Homo sapiens: one gene and its partner. The protein of the gene in region 2 purifies or fractionates together with the protein of the main gene of each other region. This does not show direct contact. Each region holds a gene or a part of one and is shown on either strand. Other genes may lie near its edges.

Region 1 (4,809 bases), on a different chromosome or scaffold from region 2:
TAAAAAAAAAAAATTTTTTTTTGTAGAGACAGGGTTTTGCCATGTTGCTCAGGGTGGTCTTATGCTCCTGGGCTCAAGACATCCTCCTGCCTTGGCCTCCCAAAGTGCTGAGATTACAGATGTGAGCCTCTGTGCCTGACTTGGGCTAGGATTTAATATGAGGAATTTAGAAGTTTGTTAGCAATAATCTGAGGTAAAATTCAAGAACAGTGGCATATAGTTAGGAGCAAATAACAGTAAACAAAAACTTTTATCATCCTTCTCTTCAATAGTACTTGCATTGGTTGATTGATTTATCAAATTTTTATTGATGGATTACCGTATGCCAGGCACTACCCTAAGTGCTTGGGGCACTTCAAAGAATAAAACAGATAGAAATTCCTGCCCTCATGCGGTTACATTCTAGCATGGAAAAGCATCACTAGTAAATTATATAGTATGTTACAAAGTGATAAGTGCCAGGGAAAAAGGAGCATTGTAAGTAGGATAAACTTTCCTCTTAGTGCCTTGAACATAGCAGGCACCTTCTGTATAAATAAATGAAGGAATGGATGATTGAACTACATTGATTTGGATGAGGAGACTGAGGAAATAAACCACTTTGTCCTCTTAAGAGTTCCCGTTCTCTTTTGCCTCTCTGCTGCTCCTTTTCCTGCCATTCTTTTTCTTTTGGTGGGGGATTTTAAAAGAGCTGTACCACTTTCTCATCCTTTTTTCTTTTTCTGTTTCTTTGCTTTTCTTGCTGGTGGGGGTTGGGGGAAACCCATGAACTATTGAAACTCTGGACCAAGGAAGTTCTGTGTGTCTAGCATGTAGCTAAAAGGATGCAAGGTAGAGGAAGAAATCCTTTGCTGGGTACAAAATAAGGATATACATAATAAGTCTGTGTTCTGACTCTCCACTTTTCTTTGGGAGATGGTTAAGAACATGGGCTCGGCTGGGCGCGGTGGCTAACGCCTGTAATCCCAGCACTTTGGGAGGCCAAGGCAGGCGGATCACGAGGTCAGGAGATCGAAACCATCCTGGCTAACATGGTGAAACCCCGTCTCTACTAAAAATACAAAAAATTAGCTGGGCGTGGTGGCGGGCGCCTGTAGTCCCAGCTGCTTGGGAGGCTGAGGCAGGATAATGGCGTGAACCCAGGAGGCAGAGCTTGCATTGAGCCGAGATCGCGCCACTGCACTCCAGCCTGGGCAACAGAGCGAGACTCCGTCTCAAAAAAAAAAGAACATGGGCTCTAAGCCAAACTGCTGGGGTTCAAATTGTGTTTAATCCATTATTACTTGTAAGACCTTGGGCAAAGTAATTAACCTCTGTGCTTTGGTTTCCTCTTCTATAAATTGAGAGTAAAATAGTACTTAATGGCATTATTTTAATAATTGAGAGTTCTCATGTAAGGCTTTTAGAGCAGTGCCTGGCACATGGTAAATGCTTAATAAATGTGAATGCTGACAGCTTGCCCTGAGAGGTAGAACGTGAAGGTGGGGAATGCAGCCGTAATGAAGATGGAGGGAAGTGCTCGTGTTTATTAGATGCTTGTTCTTTGACAAGTAGGGTAGGCATTTATATACATTTTCATTTATCCTCAGTAAAATCCTGGGAGGATGTGAAGATCAGAAAGTTAAGAAACTTCCTCACAGATCTGGGATTTGAACTTAAGTATCTCTAACACTAAAGACAAGATTTTTGTTATATCATGCTGAGGAGGGAGATTGGTTGGTATGCAGAATATGTATGCTTCTCTAAAATGGACAGCGGGATGGTTGGACAAGAGACCATTTTGTCATGTATCTCCTCTTTATTATGTGTCAGCAAGCTAATGGATATGATCTAGCATGAAAGTTGATAACCTTAGGGAAGGTTCTGAATTGTATACGTCAGCCAAGGAATATTTCACAGAGGAGTTTTGACTTAGGGAACAGGTTTTTGCTCCAAAAGAATTGGGGGAGGTGGATGGGAAAAGGGAAGATTGTTGATCAAAGGGTATAAAATTGCAGTTAGACAGAAGGAATATACTTTAGTGATCTGTTGCATAGAATGGTGACTATAATAAGTAATAATCGGCTGGATGTGGTGGCCCAGGCCTGTAATCCCAACACTTTAGGGGGCCAAGATGGGAGGATTGCTTGAGGTCAGGAGCTGGAGACCAGCCTGGGTAAGATAGTGAGACCCCATCTTTTAAAAAAAACAACAAACTCAATTAGCCAGGTGTGGTAGTACATGCTTGCAGTCCTAGCTACTTGAGAGGCTGAGGCAGGAGGATTGCTTGAGCCCAGGAGTTTGAGGTTACAGTGAGCTGTGATTGCACCACTACACTCCAGCCTGGGTAACAGAGTGAGACCCTGTCTCTAAAAAGTAATAATAATAAATAAATAATAATGCATTGTATACTTCAAAATTACTAAAAGAGTACATTTTAAATGTTTTCTTTCTTTCTTTCTTTTTTTTTTTTGAGACAATTTCTCTCCCCTCTCCCAGGCTGGAGTGCAGTGGCGTGATCTCGGCTCACCACAACCTCTGCCTCCTGGGTTCAAGTTATTCTTGTGCCTCAGCCTCCCGAGTACTGTGATTACAGGCATGTGCCACCACACCCGGCTAATTTTTGTATTTTTAGTAGAGATGGGGTTTCAGCACGTTGGCCAGGCTGGTCTTGAACTCCCAGCTTCAAGTGATCCGCCCTCCTCAGCCTCCCAAAGTGCTGGGATTACAGGCGTAAGCCACTGCACCCAGCCTTAAATGTTTTCATCACCAAAAAAATGAGAAATATGTGAGGTGATAGATTTGTTAATTAGCTTGATTTAATTATTCTACAATGTGAACATATATTGAGACATCACAGGGTACCCTACATATATATAATATATACAGTTATTATTTGTCAATTAAAAATAAAATAAATATTTTAAGAGAGAATGAGGAAGGCTGCCCTGAGTTGGTATGAATCTTCCCTTGGAGCTTATCAGGATGGAGTGGCTGTTCTTGATGTAGGAGGTGTGGGTTCTGGGACACACAAGCAGGATCAATTCTGTGTCCAGAGCCTCAGAAAAGAAACATACTCTATTGTGGCTCCCAGACCCTTCCATAATTTCACAGCATGGAGAGCTGTGCTTTCTTCATAGGCTTTTTTGAGGTTACTATTGTTTTTGAGGGCTCCCTCAGGAAATTAATTGGTCTGCTTTTCCAACTAGGAAGAAGATTCCCTCCTTAATATCTGCAAGGAGATTGTGGAACGATGGTCAGAAACTCAGAATGTTGTCACCAAAGTGAAAAAAGAAGGTAGAGTCAGAGTTTCTGTGTTTAACTTCCTGAGCCTTTTCCAGCAGCCTTGACTGTATAGCTGTTAGGAAGAGATCTTTTCATTTTCCCCTTGGATGCTCATTTTCCCGAAGATAGTGTACACTGGCAAACACCCAACAGCCTGTGTTACCTTTACTGAACATTGGCTTCCTTTTCTTTTTTTGCATTTTTCCATTTCGACTGACCACAGTTTTCTTCATTGTGGTTTTTTACTTTTTCTTTTTCATCATCTTTCCACTGCTTCTTGTAGATTTGCATTGCAGGTATGGAGTCAACTATATTTTTACCACTTCCTACTTTTTTCATGTTGTCTTTTTTTTTTGAGACAGAGTCTTGCTGTGTCACCCAGGCTGGAGTGCAGTGGCGTAATCTCAGCTCACTGTAACTGCTGCCTCCCAGATTCAAGTGATTCTTGTGCCTCAGCCTCGTGAATAGCTGGGACTACAGGCTCATGTCACCATGCCTGGCTAATTTTTGTGTTTTTAGTAGAGATGGGGATTTCACCATGTTGACCAGGCTGGTCTCGAACTCCTGACCTCATGTGATCTGCCCACCTCAGCCTCCCAAAGTGCTGGGATTACAGGCATGAGCTACAGCACCCTGCCTCATGTTGTCATTTCATAACACAAATTATGGTTGGTATTTGGCTTTATTCAGCTAAACACTTTACCCTTTAAAATGGAAGAGAAATGGGCGAATATACCCACCACTAGGATGGTAAATTAGGTACAGAAAACTCAAATCATAAAAGCCAAATTTGGAAAGATTCTGAACTCTGTACACTGTTGGTTCTCAGTTTTGGCTGTATATTAGAATCACTTAATGTACCTGGGTTGGGGCCCAGGCATTTGTATTTTTTAAAAGCTCCTGTAGGTGATTCTAATGTGCAACCAAGTGTGAGAACTACTATTTTACACCATTGTTTCCTTTTCTTGAGACTGGAGAACTTACTAGTTGATTTTATTTTATAGCATGGCAAAATATTTTTTTTTTTGAGACGGAGTTTTGCTCTGTCGCCCAGGCTGGAGTGCAGTGGCGTGATCTCGGCTCACTGCAAGCTCCGCCTCCCCGGGTTCACGCCATTCTCCTGCCTCAGCCTCCCGAGTAGCTGGGACTACAGGCGCCCGTCACCACGCCTGGCTAATTTTTGTATTTTTAGTAGAGACGGGGTTTCACTGTGTTAGCCGGGATGGTCTCGATCTCCTGACCTCATGATCCACCTGCCTTGGCCTCCCAAAGTGTTGGGATTACAGGCGTGAGCCACCGCGCCCGGCCAAAATATTCTTAATCTAAGAATTCCACCTGGCATAATCAGAAACATAAACAGGACCAGCTTAAGTTGATTTTAGATTCCTGCTTAGGTTTTTGGGATGCCATGGGGAAGTTGAGTGTTCAGAGGCTTAGTTTTCTGTGGTTCTAATGCAGTGCTTTTCAACCTTTTTTTTTTTTTTTTTTTTTTAAGGCAGCAGAACTTCAGTATATAAAACAAGTAAAATCAGGGCTGCTCTGATT
Region 2 (4,809 bases):
GTTCGCCCTGCTCATACCAATCAGGGCACTAGGTGATTTATTAGCAGAACTACTTAGGGGCTTGATATGACAAGAAATGTACCACATGAAAAGTTTATTTCTTTCTGAATTTATTTTGAGATCAGAAGAAAAATAGGGAAAGGAAATGAGTAAAGGAGGGAGGAAGGAGAGAAAGAGAGGAGAGAATAAGAAAAGAGAGAACAGCATTTCACTGAAAATGTATTGACCTTAATTTTTAAAACTGCTCCTTTTACTGGACCCATTTTCATTGTGATGGAGTCATATCCCATGAAGTGGAAACAAAAGTTTCTCACTCCAACTCCAGAGCTAAAGGTAGCTTAGTGAAATCAGCAGTGATTTGCGATGTACACTGGGAAGGGGGAAAGACTATCTGTGGTCTGAGGAGGCGCTGCAGGAAAAGCCCGGAGCAGGGTTTTCATGTTTAATGACTTCCTAATGGACTGGAGTCTAGTCTGACTCGGTGATTTGTGAAGGTAACTTCTGCCTCAAATATCAGAGATGCTTTACATGACTGGCAGACTGGCATGAACTTTTCCCTACAATCGTAATCAAATGATAGCACATTCCATACCTGAACTGTCAGTGTGCTCCAGGGAGTCATCAGAAGTGATACTGGAATGCACTGGAATGTTCTCCCCAAATATTTCAAAGCAGTTATCAATGAGGAATTCCACCAGTGTCTTCACCTGTGAGGAAAAGTAAGCAATTTGTCAGCTTGAAGACTTTTTTTTTTTTTTTTTTTTTTTGGAGGTGAGGAAGAATGGGGACACTGGAGTCAGGTGCCAAAATGAGAATCTGAGATCTTTATGTGTCTGAAAAGAGCATACAGAAATTTGGTAACAATCAGATACTTTTTTTTTTTTTTGAGACAGGCTTTCACTCTGTCACCAGGCTGGAGTGCAGTAGCCTGATCTCAGCTCACTGCAACCTCTGCCTCCCGGGCTCAAGCGATTCTCCCGCCTCAGCCTTCCGAGCAGCTGGGACTACGGGCGCCCGCCACCACGCCTGGCTAATTTTTTCTATTTTTAGTGGAGACGGGGTTTTGTCATGTTGCCCAGGCTGGTCTCAAACTCCTGAGCTCAGGCAATTCGCCTGCCTCGGCCTCCCAAAGTGCTGAGATTTCAGACGTGAGCCACCATGCCAACAATCACATACATTAAAGTTAGATACTCCTTGGTGTTTTGAGACATGCATTTTAAATTTAAGAACTTAAAAAAATTTAAAGTATTAATAAAATTTTCATTTAAGTAAGTAGTGTCCCAGATTGATAGACTGATAGACTGTGGTGTACAAAACACAAAAACAAAAGGGCTTTTTTATATCGGGAGAGAGTGATGTAAATACTCGCAGCACTCATCTGTCTCACAGATGACAGAAGACACGGATTTATTCAGTTTCATTAGATACATGTATCTGAGAGAGTGGAACTATGACAAAAGCATTTTGCATTTTATATTTTCACTGTGATTCTGAGTCAGTTGGAGACATTCTGAAGCATTTTATTGCCTGGACTTGGCAAACAGATGGTGAGATCATAAGTTGGGGATTTCTCATCAGTAAGCAGAACAAACCTTGTTGTTCAGGTCCTTCTGGGCTTCAAATGACAGGCTCTGGTCATTCTCCAGGGTGAGCATGTTGGGTCCAATGCAGATGGCCAGATTGCTGGAGTCCATCCTGTTCACCTCAGAGTTCTTGCTGATGAGGTGCAGCACATAGACCAAGTGCTTGAGTAGCAGGAGGTTGGGCCGGGGGAGCTTATCTGCAACCCTGGAATAAAGTGAAGGGATGTTAGTTTTCAAAAAGGCTAATGGTCTTCAGTGTAGCAAGCTGAGAGTTTCTGCCGAAACCAGACTTCCTTTAAAATGAGGAAGGTGCATTTTCACAAGTAATATTGTGAAATGCTCATTCAGACACTTCCAGTGGCAACTGACACAGAGTGAGACTGGTTAACCACAAGGTCTTGAGGAGCTAAGAAACTGGCCTTTGTAATTGGGACACCAATAACACAGCCCTTTATTATTTATACAGAGCTTAAATTATGAAGCCAATCTGCATTAAACACCATAGTTTGCCTTTATGTTTAGAAAATAGTTTTGTTGAGTAATCATTTAGTCATGTAGAATTTCTTTCTGTTTCTAACACGACTAGACTGGTTTTCTTGCCTTAAAACAAAGACGGAAACAAAACTATAATTACCAAACGAAGATGACACATTTTTACAACATTCTGAGAAAGCTTTATGAAGACTAAATCAGTTTCTAAGGGCATGTTCATATAAGGCGGCACTTAAATCGCAACATTGTTTCTAATGATAAGAAATTAGACTTCTTAAAGTCTCACTTTTTCAAAAACGAAATGGTGATTATTTTCATTTCTCAGAAGAAGGAATTGTTATAAAAATGCCTTATGTCTAGGTAGAAACTCATTGTGATAATCTTAGAATTTTCATTTTGGGACAGACATTTTAATGTCTTCAATTCTATACATATGTCATTGAAAGTATTTAGCCATGTGGGACAATTATAACATTTAGATAAACTTTCATAGGATGTGACAACCATGCTGACATTTCAAAGCTTGGGTTTTAGAATTCTCTAGTCACTAACAGATCACACTTTCCATTGCATATGTTATTATTTTTACTCTCACTGGAATGTGTTATTATATAGTTTTCATTTGGGTTAATTATAAGAAGATGAAATATGCTGTGAAGTTTTATGAACAAAACAACTGCCCCCCACCACACTGTCTGGCTGCATCCTGAGGGATGTTTTATGGGAGAACTGTTGCCTTGCATGACACCAGTCAGTGTAGCTTAAAGATAATCCCGAATTTCTACACTTTGCTGGTGAGCCTGTGTTAAAGTTCTCAGGTCTGATTTTATCTCATACCTTTTTGAACATCTTACATTTTCAGACTTCCCTACCTCTTGGGATTTGTGAGGATTGAAGTTCGCTTTCTACTTTTTGAAGAAATATTTCATTTGGCTAAAATTAAAATTCAAAAGTCCAGGGCACCCTCTGGTTTTTGTTCTGGGAGTGGACGAGCAATTCCACTCGGATTCCCTAAACATCACAATTCTCATGGAACAGGGATCATGAAGCATTTAGAAAGCTGTGTAAAGAATCAAAAGACGGAGGTGATGTGGCCTGGCAATGACCGATGACTTTGATGACTTACTGTTTCAGGGCCTCGATTCTGTCCTCCTCGTCCTGCATCTCCAGAGCACCCATCCACTCCTCAAAGAGGTCGCTTGAAAGTAGCTTCCGGGGGATACTTCTGAGGAAGTCCTGGGGGATGAGAGTGGGCTGTTGGCCTATTGGTACTGTATGATGTCCCATGTCCTTGTTTTCACCCGGTTTTCGTTCCATCGCAGGGTGCTCTATGCTTAGCCCATCATAGATTGTGGCCCTTCATTCCTGCATTTGATGAATCCAGGGAACCCTCTCTCCAACACCCTTGGCCTCTCTGCAACTTTCTAACATCAGGCAGAGTCAGAGGCACCATCCCCAGGTGGGTGTGTTCTGAGGGGCCACTGGATTTTGACGTATGGATTCTGCCACGGAACAATCAAATTGCCCGTACTTGGCAAAGTTTTGGGAGAGCAGAATGCATCACTTTCTGTTGGAATCTGAGGTCACAGAAACAGAGGTGCTTACTAAATAAATAAATAAAGGGCTTAATGAAAAAAATTAAACTCCAAGATCAGTGTACCTTGCTGTGTGGGGAGAAGAGCCTATTTCTTGCATCCTGAGAATGAGTGTGTCAGGGCCCCTTGGCAGGTTATTTGGCGCAAGTGTGTTGAACTCACCTTAAAGACCACAGCGAGGAGGTGCACGGGGAGCCTCTCCAGATCCACCGCATCCCCAGAGTTGAGCTCCTCCTTCAGCTCCTTACGGGCTTTCTCGTTGGCTGCTCTCCTGAATATCCCTTCCGTTGAAGGGCCTTTAAGGCATAGAATAGTGAGAATGTCCTAAAGGAAACAGCAATAGGAACAGGAAAGGGTTACCCTTCTTCTTTAGTATACTGAGATAGTCTTAACAGGAATATTGATGTCAGATTTTGCTTTCAGTCCAGTTGCTGTCAATGGCCTTCCTCAACCCTGCTATTTTTCTAAGAGGAGGCAAATTGTGAAAGCTCTAATTTTGCACTTTCTAAAATCACTTTGGAGCTCTCTCCTTTCAAATACTTCCATATGAACATTGGATTTCAGATCACAAAGTCTATATTCTGTTTCCCCCTTTTGACTTTTCAGAAGCTACAAATCTTCAGCATTCTCCACTCTGTGAAGTCAGAGGAATGGCGGGACCATAGCTCTGAGCTCATTGGCAAATACAACTAATTTCAATTTCTGGAATGGAAGCAGTCAGATATTCTTCTGACTGCACGCGTATGTGGGAGTGCCATGTTGAAGAGTGGAAAATATGGAAGATCAGTCCCTACAAACTTAATAGGAGAATGACATTCAGATTTCCCGAGTATTTTGCATGTCCAACTGAAAACTGAAGTAGGTTTATGAGAGAATGCACGCCTACCTGGATGGGTCTGGGGAGTGTGTCACTGTCACCGCAGATAATTGACAAGGGCTGATCAAATAGCGATGCTTTCAAGTCTGTCTCCAAAGCCCCAGAAAAATCTGATGCAGGGGAGAGCCTTCTCATGAGAAAGGGCCAGGACAGCACCTTCTTTCTCTTCTTAACTTCTACAGCCAAGAAAACAAGGCAACGAGAAAAATTAGACTACAGTGTTAAGAAGCAAAGATCCAGGTAAGAAAATGGGTATCGTTGG

Evidence for each region. The genes of interacting proteins can lie anywhere in the genome.
Region 1: the proteins of TAGAP (region 2) and CCDC43 purify together in Homo sapiens (affinity purification with mass spectrometry; one large-scale study listed by BioGRID and IntAct). This does not show direct contact.

What each region holds. Positions count from the first base shown.
Region 1 is NC_000017.11:44,682,339-44,687,147, reverse strand, and holds part of CCDC43 (coiled-coil domain-containing protein 43), read left to right. Parts: intron 1-3,188; coding exon 3,189-3,276; intron 3,277-4,809.
Region 2 is NC_000006.12:159,037,522-159,042,330, forward strand, and holds part of TAGAP (T-cell activation Rho GTPase-activating protein), read right to left. Parts: exon of another isoform or gene 4,724-4,809; coding exon 4,557-4,723; exon of another isoform or gene 4,277-4,556; intron 3,995-4,276; coding exon 3,833-3,994; intron 3,535-3,832; exon of another isoform or gene 3,398-3,534; intron 3,312-3,397; coding exon 3,202-3,311; intron 1,789-3,201; coding exon 1,593-1,788; coding exon of another isoform or gene 1,575-1,592; exon of another isoform or gene 1,384-1,574; intron 708-1,383; coding exon 593-707; intron 1-592. UniProt on the Homo sapiens protein: May function as a GTPase-activating protein and may play important roles during T-cell activation.